Regions from separate parts of the Homo sapiens genome. Here region 2 is linked to region 1. The links come from fine-mapping of genetic effects on gene expression. Tissue or cell type: prefrontal cortex. Region 1 holds a variant in brackets; the other region holds the start of a gene. All regions are shown on one strand. Distances are between the middles of the regions.

Region 1 (7,826 bases):
CTGTCAAGGGAGGATGGGGGTTGTGGGAGAGCATTAGGAAAAATTGGTAACACATGCTGGGCTTAATATCTAGGTGATGGGTTGATAGGTGCAGCAAACCACCATGGCACACTTTTACCTATGTAACATACATGCACATCCTGCACATATTCCCCAGAACTTAATAGAGTAAAATAAAATAAAACATAACTAATAGGGATACACATATATTAGGAGATTCTATTTATCTGTCTATATGTCTTATTTTTTAAAATACCATATATATATATACACACACACCATAAATACCATATTTGGTATGTATATGTCATATATATATTTAAAAATGTACGATATATACCATATACAGGATTTTTAAAAATACCACGTATATACACATATATTCACACACACACACACAGACACAGAAACACACACATATATTTATATGGTATTGGTTCATGAGATTATGGAGGCTAATAAGTTCCAAATTCTGTCATCCATGAATGAGAGACACACACAGGAGAGTGGCATAATTCAAAGGCCTGAGAGCATGAAAGCCAATGGTTTAGGTGTCAGTCCAAGGGCAGGAAAGGATTGATGTGTCAGCTCAAACAGTCAGGCAGAGAGCCAGCAAATCCTCTCTTCCTTCATCTTATTGTTCTATTCAGGCCCTCAATGGATTAGATGATGCCCACTAACATTGGAAAAGATAATCCACTTTACTCAGTCTTATCAATTCAAAAGCTAATGTCTTATAGAAACATCCTCACAGAGAGACTCAGAAATATTAGATCAGTTGTATTAGTTCATTTTCATACTGCTGATAAAGACATAGCTGAGACTGGGCAATTTACAAAAGAAAGAGGTTTAAAAGTGGACTTACAGGTCCATGTGGCTAGGGAGGCCTCACAATCATGGTGGAAGGCAAAAGGCACTTCTTACATGGCAGGGACAAGAGAGAGAACTTGTGCAGGGAAACTCCCGTTTTTAAAACCATCAGATCTCATGAGACTCATTCACTATCATGAGAACAGCACAGGAAAGGTCCACCCCCGTAATTCAATTACCTCCCACCGGGTTCTTCTCATGACACATGGATATTGTGGGAGTTACAATTCAAGATGAGATTTGGATGGGGACACAGCCAAACCATATAATCAGTACAAAAGTAGTTGTGGTTTTTGCCATTGCTTTCAATGGCAAAAACCACAATACTTTTGCACGGATATATTATTATTTAATTGTATATCTAGCCATTCCATGATCTAGTCAAACTGACACATAAAATTAAAATTAACTATCACAGCTGTAATACCACAAACATTCATAATATCCCTTAATCTGAAAACAACCCCTCCTACCAATGTCTTTAGTCCCACCTCAATTGAGTTCTACTTGACAAACATTCTCTAAGACACATTTTATGCCCCAAGCACTGAGTTAGATGCTGAGGATACAGTTATGAATAAGACAGGGTCCCACTAACTCATAGGCCCATGTGAGAAGTAGCTGTAAGTAGATTATTTCAGTGTATTATTATAAACTCAGTAATAAAGATAGGCATTGAAAAAGCTACGAAAACAGGAGAGGGGGCCGGGCACGGTGGCTGACGCCTGTAATCCCAGCACTTTGGGAGGCTGAGGCAGGTGGATCACCTGAGATCAGGAGTTCTAGACCAGCCTGGCCAACATGGTGAAACCCAGTCTCTACTAAAAACACAAAAATTAGCCGGGCATGGTGGCAGGTGCCTGTAATCCCAGCTACTTGGGAGGCCAAGGCAGGAGAATTGCTTGAGCCGAGATTGCACCATCACACTCCGGCCTGGGGGACAAGAGCGAGATTTTGTCTCAAAAAACAAAAAAAGAAAGAAAACAAAACATAAGGATTCCCTAAATGAGGGGAATCTTTCTTCTATATTCATATCCAAAAAAATAGGATATCTATCATATCTTAAAAAACGCTCCTGCAAGGTGAGAATGTTATTGTTTGCTCAACAGTATCACTAAAAAGCCCTAAGCCATAAAATTATAAATTTCAAACTGACTTTAATTTTGAAGTTTAAGCAATTTCACCCACATAACAACCTCTAGAAATAGTGGCAACTTTTCTATTTCAATATAGGGTGCCAATTATCTCTTATAGCCTTTTAGCTTAAAGCAACAAACTATACTGACTTGATCCCCTTAGAATAATATGTTTTACTTACTAAATTCTTACATTTTCTGGTATTCTAGACTAGGGCATTGCTCATTCTCAACAGGGCACAGGTGAAAAAGGTGGAGAGTCTCCTGAAGCTAGGGATGGAGGTAAGGAGAAACAACGAAAGGCAGGAAGACATAGCTAGATAATGAGATGCTAAGCCAGCTCAGGAGTCAGAGTTTGAGTTAGGAGGTGATTAATAGCAAGGGTGTTTGGTTGTCAACTTTCTCTGAAAGCAGAGCAATCTCTGTGAGTAGGCCAGGCTAGTGTTCCCTTTGAAGCCTGGTCCACTGCTGGAAACCAGGTTGGTAACTCTTTCTGAAAAAGTCAATCTGACTAGCCAGGGAGGTAGTGCTGACCTCCACTCTCCCACAGGATGGCTGATACTGTATTATGCCCTGCCCTTCATGATTGGATATGGAAAGGAAACAAGCACAGCCACAACTGGTTGCACCACCTTGGTCTTTGGAGGTTACCATTAATCACACATTTAGAAAAAAGCAGCATGCCAGGAACGGAGAGAAAATGTCAGAAACATGGTGAGGGATTGTGAACATAGCAAATGGATTGCTATAGAAATTTTTAATGGAATATTTAAGATCTTGGAACAATAAAGAGATACTATGGAACAAACAAAGACAGGGCAAGATACATACGGATCAAGGAAAGCTCAATACCTTTGAACTTATTTAATGCTAAATGTTAAATTTTATGCCTCTGGGGTATTTCTTATATGGTCTATACCTTGCCTGTATCTCAGTTTTTCTCAAAGTAAGATGGACTGCTAATAATGCCTATTTTATTATAGAGTTCTGTGAAGGATTGTACAAACACATACACACACGAGTGTGTATATATACACATTTTAAAATTGTGGTGGCATGGCTCATAGAAATTCAGAAGGAATTCAATAAATATTCATTGCTGTTATTGTCTTTATTATTATTGTTTTTTTTTTTTTTTGCTTTAGTTCAACCATAACTCTTCTGCATTCCCAGTAATAGAGAGTGAGGGACCTGGCTCTTCTGCAGTTTTTCATTATCTGCTATGCCTCAAATTTATTATGTTAATCCAATCATTATAAGTTCTGCTTGGACACAAATACATATTAAATGTGATCCATGGGTCCAGAATTGTGATCGTCATTAGCTGACCCTTTCATTATGACTAAAAGAAGTATTTTAGTATTTTATTTTGTAGCTAGTGTCTGACGCAGTTTTAGTCTCCATGAGGTTACCACAACTGCCCACACTTCACAGAGAAGACAATTGAGAGTCAGGGAGGTTAACTCATAAAAACATCAAAACACCTGGGTAAATTGGAAGACCCTGGATTTGAAACGAGGGCTGTTGTGTGTGGAAGTTTGATCTCTGTACCCTTCCTTCTCCTGCTTCCCTATAATGTCCTCATCAAGAAGTCATAACTGAACCTCAGTTGCTCCATTTCTGCCTCCTGCCTTGCACTGCTTCCCAGCCCCAAGAAGTCATCGACTTGTGCTTCAGAAGGGTCTAAGGCATATTTCTTAATTCCACATTTGTTCACCATCCTTCTATTTCTTTCATCTGCTGAGCATTCAGACCTATCATCCCTCCGTTCCTTCAGTGAATGTCAACAGCCAGCTGGTGGAGCCTCCTTCACTCCCTCTAGTGAATTATCCCCCTAGATTGCTAACGCCTGGTGGTTCTCAAAGTGTGGTCTCTGGGACAGCAGCAGCAGCATAGCCTGGAAGCTTATTAGAAATACAGATTATCAGGCCCTATCCCAGACCTCCTGCATGATAAACTCTGGAAATAAGAACCTCTAGGTGAGCTTGATGCATGTTCAAGTTTGAATAACACTGTAATAGTTTAGTAATGTGAGCAACACACATATATACCCACCCCTTGTTCATTTGTACAATGCTGAATGAACCCTGTCTTGTTCCAATTCATGAAATCATGTAATGTAAAATTTTCTAAAATATGCTAAACTGTCACTGATATAAATTGAGCACGCTTATCAATTAGATGAGTACAATAAAATCGGACCTTTGGGAAGTGCTTGTTAATAGGATGGGAGTGGGGGTTGGAGAGAACACAGAGAGGACAAAAAATCGTTTGAACATATGAATACTGAGTTCTAAAGTAAATTGCTACATGTAAACGAAATTTAAGGAGTCTGAGTCACAAATAATACACCAGTTTTGAACACTCAAAAGGACTTATTCTTATGTTGATTTCTGGTGCATGTGCTCATTCACCACTTATTCTATACAACAAAGTCTAATTTTTGCTTTTCAAGTTCTTAAGGAAAACTATAGACCAATGCAGGAAATTGGGGAGAGGCCAATTCCCACAGAGACGAGGAAAATGTAATGATTCATAAAAGCTATAACCTGAGGAAGCACTGATTCGGGCCAGTGCTCATA[CA/C]AAAAAAAAAAAAAAAAGTCTTAATGAGGGAAGAACAGTTAAACTTGGAGGAACTGAACAAAGTTCTTTCAAAAATCTGAAAAATTCAAAATTTTCAAGCACATATGGCTTGGACCCCCACATTTCAAAGAGGAGATAATAAACGTGTTTTTTCCCGGCCACCTCCCCCAAATGCACTTGTCACCATTCCCTTTCACATGCAGTTCCTTTTCTCTCCTCTACCTAAAAAATTCCTACGCATATGACAAGAAACTTGGGGAAGTGATCTTGTTTCTCACAATCCCAGACAGAGTTGCTGCTTTTCCTCTGTTCTTCCATTGTGCTCAACATTTTTCCAGAGAAGTGATTGTTATAATATCACACAGTTACACAGATTTTAAAATCAAGCTCAGACTCTGAGCTCCTTAGAAAGGGTGAGATAGAAAGAGTCAAGAAAGAGCTGCCGAATAAGCAGGACCTCATCTAGGGGCTCAAATATCTTAAATCTTTTTGTTCTAAAAAATTCAGAGAAACAGGAGAACAATTCCGCAATGTCAGTGCTAAGTAGGGCATCCTTGAGGCATATGCCTTCAGAGAAGGGAAGCTGGCCAGTTCCCTCTCCTAAATGGCTCTTTCCTCTTCTGTTCAGAACCACAGAAAGAGGCAGCCTATTACCATTATATTACTTTATCCCTCTTGAATTGCCCTTCCACCCCCCACATAAAACTCTTAGTGTCATCCGTCACCACACCTAGTCTAGCCCGCATTCAAGCCCTAATAAGTTTCTTTTTACCACAGGTGCTTATTGCTAAGACTTTAATGAGCTACAGATTGTATTTACTTCTCTTGTAAATTGTTCATTATCCTTGCAAGAAATGCCACTTTCTTGCCATTTCCATTACTGGAGATACTCAAACTGAATCACTTTATGTGTACTTTTATTTTATTTGCAAATCATATATATCCATCCTTCAATTTCAGTTATAGGATGAATCAAATATTTACAATGTTCTGATACCTTCAAATTTCTAAAATAAATTTTTCTGATCTTTTGTAAGCTGTAATAATTTTTTTCCAAAGACTATAGCACTTGGCCTTCAATTCGATTCATAAAATAACACAACGCATGAGGTGCATACACCCTAGAGTGGTGGAGAACAATGGCTCCAGAAACAGGCTGACATGCCTTTTACAGGGGCTGCTGATATTTCTAGGAGCGGGATATTTAACCTCTCTCATAACAATAATGGCTAATATTTATCCTAAACTCGCTTAGTGCAAGGTACTCTGCTAAGCACATAGCATGCATTATCAGCTTTACAATAACCATAATGCAAAAGTATTATTCTCTTTTAACAGATCAGGAATCTGAGACACAGAGAGGTTAAGCAACTTGCTCAAAATCACACAGCTAGTAAATAGGGGACCAAAATTTAAAGCCAGGCAAGGTGCCTCTGGGGTTCACTACTACTGCTTTTAAATGTAAGCCAACTCTTCTGTAAAATAGGGATAATAATATTACCATTCTCAGGGGTTCCTTAAAAGGAAAACCGGGGGGCTAAGATACACATCACAATGTCCGCCTGCCTAGCATGGAGAGAGGTCTCCTGAGAGAGGCCAAAATGAGGAACTTCCCAAGCACACAGGCAAGTGATGAATTAAAAGTTATGGAGAAAGAAAAGTCAAATAAATGATCAAGAATTTGAATGGGATATAGAAGTTGAGAGCAACTACACGTGAAATTTGGCAATTACAACCACAGTGCATGGCAAGCTTTTTAGGAATTTTCTAAAAACTTTTCAAAAATAAAACCTTAACATGTGGTTAGTTGTCTCTACCTTTTTGAAAGCTCAAATGCATCTAGTTGCTTCTTTACTCACCATTTTGGGAAATAATACCCGGTCCCTACTTGCAAAGCCCTGATAAAAGGAACACTCTTATCAGAAGTGTAAAAACATAAAACTTGTTATATCCAGTTTTCTATTCTTCTCAGGTTGTTCTTTTTTCCCCTGATCTTTCTTTTTGTATCCACCTTTATCTCCCTAATAATTGCCCAGCATTCTGGCAAAACTTTAAATGTTTTGCCATCATTAATGGAAGGAAGAGAAGTAACTTGTTAACTGTCATATCTGTACTAGGCATTGTACCAGGACCTTAGTGTAACCCACTCAATCCTCATAAACTCTGCAAGAAAGATCCTCCTATTCCATTTTACAGATGAGGAAATTTGCCTTAAGCCTGTGGAACTGACCTTACCCTTCAACTTGCCTGAGATCCAGACACAAACTCCAAGGAGTTCATTCTTACGTGAACCCGTATATAATACAGATTACATCACCAAAGAAAATCCCATGCATCCGTTCTAAAGAAAAATCCTTCTGTTCCCTTTTTACTTATTAATGCAGCAATTGCTTTTCTCTTGTGACTGTGTTTGCTTCTCCTAGGAAGAGACACCTGTCTTTGCTCAAGGTTTTTGTGACTACAGATTGATAAACAGTTTCTTTCTCTGGTTTCTAGACTTCATGGGGCTTGCTTGCTTTTGGGATCTGATGCCCTCAAAGGCAGAGCCAGTGGTCCTTATTAAGAGATTCCCAAGTTTAGAACTGTGTTTAGAACTCGAATTCCCAACATTCATTTGCTAACTTTTAATTAGCATATTTGCTAACTTTTAATTAGCATGGTTTGGCTAAAGGCAAGATACAGGTCCAATAAACTGAGTGCTGTCAGGTCCCCTTCCCAAATCTGGCCAGGTGCTTGTACGCAGGTCAAATAATCTCTTCTCTGTCTTACCATTTCGGCCTCTGCCATACAGAATGTTGTTAACATACCTTAATTCTGAATCATGATATTCCTGTTCTTCCTGAGGATTTTTTTTTTCCTCTGACTCTTACTTTTTTCTAGGGCTGAAATTAGGTCACTATTTCTAGAATGGCATGGTTTTATTTTCCTTTTTCCCTTTTCTAGGTTGCCAGCAATAAAATAATAGAAGCTGACGTCCTAAAATGGGAGATAGAGGAAAACTGCGTTCCCATTTTTATATCAGAAATCTAAGCTCCCCGAAGGCTCTAACAGAGATAATTTCCTTTCATTCTAAAATTGTCTCTAGAATAGCATATAGGCATAGAATATAGCATTTTTCACTGCATTTTTTTTAACATGTAGGTAGGTTGATTTCAAAGACTCAGATGAATCCCTGAGGAGATATTACCACAAAGGAAAATAACCAAAAAGACAGTATGCACTAAGCACTTAAGTGAG
Region 2 (7,826 bases), 380 kb before region 1:
CTTTTCACATATCTCAAAGTCGTGAAAAGCAAGGAGAAACCGAAGAAATTGTCTCAGACAAAAAAAAAGCTGGGATATATGATATCTAAATTCAGTGTAGGATTCTGGATTAAATCCTAGAACGATAAGGGACATTAATGGAAAAATTGTTCAATTCAAATAAAGTCCATATTTTAGATTTATTTTTAAAGCAGCAATATAGGAACAACCCCCACATTCTGTCCCAATATAAGGACAAAACAATTAGTTTTGACCCCTAAATAGGGGCAAGTCATCAAGTGCTGTTCCTACAGTGTTAGAAGCTGCTGGACATTCATATTCTGCTACATAATTACTGTGAAGCTCTGGGCAGTTTATCCTCATTATTTGAACTCTTATGAGTTGAATATATTTATATTCATATTATGTATATGTTAATATATAGGTATAATTATATATATTCATGTTAATATATACAAATATTATTCATATCATATATGGATATAATTATATATAGTCATACTAATGCATATGAATATAGTTATATATTCATTAATATATACAATATAGTTATATATTCACATTAATACATATGTATATATATTATATGATATTTAAGACTGAGCATCAAATAACTTATATGTATATATATATTCAAGAATTAATTCTGTGAAGCTACTTAGCAATAACTTGGCTTCTAATAATAATACTTAAATAACTCCCAACAAAGAAAAGAAAATGATTTATTCCCTGCATTCTTTAATTGATATGCATTGCCTATGAAGTCAATTTCAGATGGATGAGTGTGCTAGTCAATAGAATTCACTTGGATGTTTTTCTTGATTGCTTTATCCTGAATTGCAGTCAAACAGCCATAACATTATTATGGTCATCCTCCTTAATATTATCAGAACTACAAAATTTCAAATATAGATATTCTCAAACAAAAATTCATGTTTCCCTCTATAGGCCTCAGTTTCCTCTTTTGTAAAATGAATGAGTTTTATTCAAAGTTGCCTGTGTCATTTCTAATACTCCAAAATTATTTACAGTTAAGAATGAATAGCTCCACCAAGTATTGGTGCACAGATGTATTAATTTGAGCTACAGCTTTAAAGCATCTATAAAATATGTACTATGGAAGAGAAATAAGGGCAGCAAGAAAGGATCACCTGGGAAATATCGATGATTCCTTTGAAAAGTATTCATTTTAATTAGAATGTCCTATTTCAATTTATAATGAATTTACCCTCTGAAATTCAATTTTCAAAGTGAGCTTGGTCAAGCTGGTTCCATTAGAGACTGTGAAACATGATGAAAATCTCAACTGGAATGAAGATTCAGTTATAGAAAAATAAATGAAAAAAAAGATAGGGAAAAAATAGTACTGAGTAAAGACAACTGTTTCACTATTTTGCTTTTTTTATTTTTAAGAAAACAGTGTGCTTAGGTGAAAAATATATTTTTAGTACTTCTTACATTTTCCATAATCCATCACTGCCTTTTCACTGAATGGCTAACAAGTGAAGATGGGAAAAGTTTGAATCAATGTGTCAGGGCCCACTTTTAAAGCAGTCATGTTTCAGTTCTATATTAGGAACACAGCTGCCTTTTTCTTATGGAAATGAGATTTTCATGTTGAAAAAAAAAAAAAAAAACCTCTGCAACTTTAGAGGAGAAAATGTAGAATATTTGTAAGTGAATGTTGCCTTAAGAATGGATAAAGTTTATTAGAAGGGGAACACACTTTTTAGATATGCTCTAAAAATACACATTGTGATTTTCAAAACACAAAGCTGTGTCTCAACATATTGGCCACAGGCATAGTGATAAATTACAGTTTCTTTTTGTTGTTCCCTGCTTATGTATGAACTATGTAAATATGATCATAAGTTACTTGTGTTTGCACATGAGATATGTATAATTTTGAATTGTCATTGCAGAAGTGCTATAATAAATTATTAGTGTTGTTGAGTGAGTATTTATCAAGATTATTCTATTCAATTGAAGAAAATATTTTTTCATAAAAATGAAAACTTGTCATTTAAGGTACCATTCAAAAAGCAAGAGATATGAAGAGATAAAAATAAACAAAATACATAAACAAAAGAGAAAAAACTGGGGAAGAAGGAAAAAGGAAGTTACCCTAAGAATTATATTTAAGCAGATTCCCAGAGTACTTGAAATACTAGTGACTGACACACATACTATTTTTTAAAAATACTCTGTTACTAATTCACACCTGGTTGGCAGAATAGGAGGAGCACAAATCTTAATCAAGAGACTGGTTTTGAATCAAGCTTTGTTGTTAATTAGCTGGGTACCTTTGGGGAAATTACACAACCACACCCAGCCCCAGCTTCTTCATTTTAAAGTGTGTCTTGTAGAATGAGTAACTGTGCCCTAAAAAGAAAATGGGCAATGCAGAAGTGTCCAAAGTAGAAAGTTCCCTGAGTAACGACTATCCTGTGCACTTTGAGATTCATCAAAAGACGAGTCATTGTGATCTTAACTCAACTCCAGGAGACCTAAAATCCTGTGAATTTTCACAGTATAAAGTCCAACCCTGGCTGGATAAAGCATAATGATATTTTCAAATTTATCCATGTCTTTTGGCGTAGAGTGAGCATGCCTAATGAGTCACCAACTTATAAAATCGTGACATCCTTCCAGTCAATATATAGTAATTAACCACCTACTCTGTCTCAGGCACTGTTCTAACTAGGAAATTAGCAGTGTATACAACAGTCTCTATTGCCACAGAGCTTCCATTCTGGCTGGGGATGAGACAGACAATAGTCATATAAACCAACAGACTTGCTAGTTTATAAATACTATGAAGAAAGATCAAACATGAAGATCAAAGAATAATTGCCCCATTTACTGAATGCTTTTAATGCGAAGTCATTTAATATACATTTTATTCTAATCCCAACAAAAATTAATATCATTTTTCATTTTACAGAAAATGAAACTGAAACTCCTAAATTTTGTTACATTATCAACATTTTACAGTAGAAAAGTAGAAACGCAGACTGGGAATTCAAATTAGTATTTTGACCACAGAGTCACTTTCTACAACAATACACAGTCCCATTGATCTCATAAGCACTGGGCATACTTTCTTCCTTAACAGAAAACATTTTCTTAACCTTATTTCGGTTATAATGGAAGTAGGCATAACAGTAGATACTTGTTGGGAAACTATAATTGCTTTTGAAAACATATTCATAAATCAGCACTTCCATACAAGAAAAGTGGCACATGTGCAGAATGATTAATCTGTAATACATTTTACAAATATTTAGAAATCCTCTACTTCAGTACCAGGCACTGCCCCAGACAACTGGTATACCACCATGTGCAAACAAACTATGGTCTCTGTCTTACTCCACCTGGCATGAACAAGTGGAAACACTGCAAGGTACAGGCCAGAAAAAGATGGTGTGACAGGAGTGTTAAGTAAGAATATCGGCATTGAACTCAGTCTGGATCTGGAGGTCAGGGTCAGAAAGGTTAAAGTTTGTTGAATCTATGTGTGTTTAAAACTTTTAGACAACTTTGTACTCATTGTTTAACTAGTATTAGATAGGTTCTTAGACGATTTAAGTCAGTTTTCTAAAAGGAGTAATATAATTTAAAAAATGTTACATCCAGTTCAAGGACTCAACATTCTGACTAGGCATTTGAGTAAATAATTTATTTTCTCTAAATCATGGGTTCTTCATCTGTTTTATGAGTCTACTAATACACACCTATACTGCTTCATAGCACAGTTGAAAGGCTGTAATGGGAGAATGGATGTAAAAGAAGTTAGTAAATCATAATATTTACATATCATTGTAATTCACTATAAGAATTATCAATTACCTTTTGCTCGATTGAATATAGTTATGAATGAAGAACAGTCTAGTCATGCTAGTCATTACATGGTGTATAACAAATACATGGTGTTGTAGGAGAAACCAGTATGAGAGATGACATTCCAGAGCAGATATTCAATGGATGAATTAGTATTTTTGGCTTCAAATGTAGAATACACAAATGGCAAGAAGCTGGGAACTACTGGAAATATTTATGAGAACTAACTTGTTTGGTATGTACTATGTACCCTGGGCCTTTCTTTTCTTCATGTAACAAAAGGGACATTCCATTTTCCCTGACAGTAGTTTTGGCAGCTTCATTGACAGCACTGTCATCATTAGATAATTAGAATTGTAAGCCTTTACTTTTCTCCATTTTCTATACAGGATTTACTATACTTCCAGGCTCGTCTTCTTTCGATGTATGGAAGGTGAATCACGTGAAAAGCATACTATGAATTGTTAATGTAAATAGTTTAGAAGTAGTAATCATAGAATAGAATGTAACATTTGCCAAATGCTTATTCTATGCCATGCCCTTGATTGTCTTATTTGGGTTCCCCTAGAAGCAGGCGCTCAAACAAGGATTTGAGTACAAGTCGTTTAATAAAGAGATGATTCCAAGAAATGTAAGTATTGGAATAGGAAAATAAGACAATAGGTAAAAAGGCTACGGAAGGTAGATTGTCAGACAATTACTACAGTGGGCCTGCTTTCCCTGAGGGAACCTGAAACAAAGTATAAGATATGACCCTTACAGGCATCCTGCCTAACGAAGAGGACACTGGGGCATTTAACTGCCAGTGCCCAGCAGTCGTAGTTGAGTCCTGCTGATGAAACAGAAAACCTGCAACCTGCCCTGTTTGCAGGCAGAACAGACAGTTAAATATATCAGCCAAGGAACAGCAGGGGCTGGTAGCTGAAGTTTGGACAGTCGAGCCCGTAAATGGTAGGGAACGGATTTGTCACAACATCAACTTTGCACGTATTATATGATACTTTTTTTTATTATACTTTAAGTTTTAGGGTACATGTGCACGATGTGCAGGTTTGTTACATATGTATACATGTGCCATGTTGGTGTGCTGCACCCATTAACTCGTCATTTAGCATTAGGTATATCTCCTAATGCTATCCCTCCCCCCTCCCCCCACCCCACAACAGGCCCCGGTGTGTGATGTTCCCCACCCTGTGTCCATGTGTTCTCATTGTTCAATTCCCACCTATGAGTGAGAACATGCGGTGTTTGGTTTTTTGACCTTGCGATAATTTGCTTAGAATGATGGTTTCCAGCTTCATCCAGGACCCTACAAAGAACATGAACTCATCATTTTTTATGGCTGCATAGTATTCCATGGTGTATATGTGCCACATTTTCTTCATCCAGTCTATCACTGTTGGACATTTGGGTTGGTTCCAAGTCTTTGCTATTGTGAATAGTGCCGCAATAAACATACGTGTGCATGTGTCTTTATAGCAGCATGATTTATAATCCTTTGGATATATACCCAGTAATGGGATGTCTGGGTCAAATGGTATTTCTAGTTCTAGATCCCTGAGGAATCACCACACTGACTTCCACAATGGTTGAACTAGTTTACAGTCCCACCAACAGTGTAAAAGTGTTCCTATTTCTCCACATCCTGTCCAGCACCTGTTGTTCCCTGACTTTTTAACGGTCGCCATTCTAACTGGTGTGAGATGGTATCTCATTGTGGTTTTGATTTGCATTTCTCTGATGGCCAGTGATGATGAGCACTTTTTCATGTGTCTTTTGGATGCATAAATGTCTTCTTTTGAGAAGTGTCTGTTCATATCCTTTGCCCACTTGTTGATGGGGTTGCTTGTTTTTTTCTTCTAAATTTGTTTGAGTTCTTTGTAGATTCTGTTAGCCCTTTGTCAGATGAGTAGATTGCAAAAATTTTCTCCCATTCTATAGGTTGCCTGTTCACTCTGATGGTAGTTTCTTTTGCTGTGCAGAAGCTCTTTAGTTTAATTAGATCCCATTTGTCAATTTTGGCTTTTGTTGCCATTGCTTTTGGTGTTCTAGAGATGAAGTCCTTGCCCATGCCTATGTCCTGAATGGTATTGCCTAGGTTTTCTTCTAGGGTTTTTGTGGTTCTGTGCAGTCTGTAGTATTACCAATGCTAATTATAAATGAAGAAACTGAGGTTCAGAGAAGTTACTTAATTCACTTAAGGCCACACAGCTAGTAAGCAGAGGAAGTGAATTCCAAACCCAGGATTTCATCTGACTTCCACGCTTCGACTCTTGACCTCTCATTAATACGTTGTTTACTTGGCAACTGGTCAGTTTGGAAAGTTGGCTTTCTCTGGGGAATATCATGGGGCTAATTGGGAGATGCTTTCAATCACAATATGTTAATAATCTACAATAATTCAAAAAAGTGTAATAGAACTGTGGAATCCCTGAAGTAAAACATGATAAACCTCCACTTCTTTCTCTCTCTTTGCAGTGTTCTTAAGTATTTGTTCCAGTGTGTAGATGTTCCCGTTATGTTTTTCTGTATGCATATGTATATGGGAAATATTGAAGTGGGACATAACAAATATATATTAACTTTGGGACATTTTTATTATTAGGGGCTAGGCTTAAGGCATCTCATCACCTGTTTCTAGGGTGTTAATGAATGTTGTGGGTGAAATAAATTCTCTTTAGCTTGCACAAGCTGGATTGGAACTCCACACTGGATTTCAGGGAAAACATGGCTTTTAAGGAAAAGAAAGAATTCAAATAAGGATAGAATATAGGACTCTGAAAGGTACAGAGGAGAAGGAATGTCATTCCAGGTAATAAAATTTGGTATGAGGATATTTGTGGAAGTAGAACTCTGCAAAGTGCATTCTGAGGATATGAACAAAACAATTTCATAGAATGGAATTTATGAGACATATGGGACTCAAGGTCATAACGCTATATTGAGGCCAGATTGCAGGGGCTCTTGAATGCCAGGCTTAGAAGTTTGAATTTTACCTCATCCTTTTGGACCTAGAGAAGACCTTTGCTTCCATAAATAAAAGGACAGCATTTACTTCCTAGCCATCATTACAGCAGAATTATTGCTTCTGCTATGCCAACCCTAATATTGCCTTTTTGGTTTGTTTTTCTTTATTTCATGATAAAATAAACTAGTTCACTGCAAGCAATTTTCTACAATAGCCAAACTGTAAAATAAAAGTCCTACGTAAATTCACCCCAAAAATGTCAGTTTAGTGTACCTTCCACATATATATACACGTGTATCTCTCATACACACAGACAGTCTCAATCAGCAAGCTGCTCCTTTGTAATTCCAAATTTATTCACTTGATATAACATTAATATATTTATGTACCAAGATGTATCAGTCTAACTCAACATGTTTATGTGTATGTATATTGGTAAAAATAGTTATAAACTACCAAAATCATCCATAATCTTACCATGGCTAGAAATAAATATTTATATTTATGAAAGTAGCTAAAGATTCCCCTGAACCCATTCCATTCCATTTGTATAAGGTAAATCTCTGTACCTTTCTTGACACATTAATATGTATCTTTCCTTTTCTTAAATAAGTATATATATATACACACACACACACACACACACACGCATATTTGTGTATTTTAATAAAAATGTAATCATTTCATACCTATAAAACTGCCTCTTGCTTTTTCTTATTGAATGCTTATGGAAGACATGTACTTTATTCCTCCTAATAGATCAATAATATGAATTCACTCAGCCACTTTTCCTATTGTTGCAAATAAGTTTTTTTCCTTAGTGTGGTTTCTAGCCACGTTTATTTTTATGGATTTGTAACATATGTTTCAGCTGTGAATATTATGTGGAAACACTTCCACTTGCTGTCCAAACCTCTAATCCAAATTGTGACTCCAAACACAACTCTCTGGACCGTGTTCCATCTGACCAAATCCTCAAGCAAGTTCTGTAGCCCAACACTCATTTGTTTAGTTGCCA

Direction of the effects. Alleles are on the strand shown, and positions count from the first base shown. SD is a standard deviation of normalised expression in the study named.
As copies of CA replace C in region 1, the expression in prefrontal cortex of the gene that starts at base 4,614 in region 2 goes down (small effect, 0.35 SD a copy in CommonMind).

The links. PIP is the estimated chance that this variant, and not a neighbour inherited with it, causes the effect.
Region 2: LINC02270 starts here. The variant in region 1 is fine-mapped to the expression of LINC02270 in prefrontal cortex (CommonMind, PIP 0.95).

Annotation. Positions count from the first base shown.
Region 1 is chr4:12,601,452-12,609,277 of GRCh38, forward strand. The region is part of intron 1 of LOC105374492 (a long non-coding RNA gene); the gene reads right to left. Among named protein-coding and RNA genes, the nearest start is that of LINC02270, 380 kb to the left of the region's middle. RefSeq lists an enhancer at 7,726-7,826. The variant CA/C (reference allele first, on the strand shown) is at 4,589.
Region 2 is chr4:12,218,838-12,226,663 of GRCh38, forward strand. It overlaps LINC02270 (long intergenic non-protein coding RNA 2270), which reads left to right and starts at 4,614. Exons shown (of 4, transcript NR_125910.1): 1 at 4,614-4,791.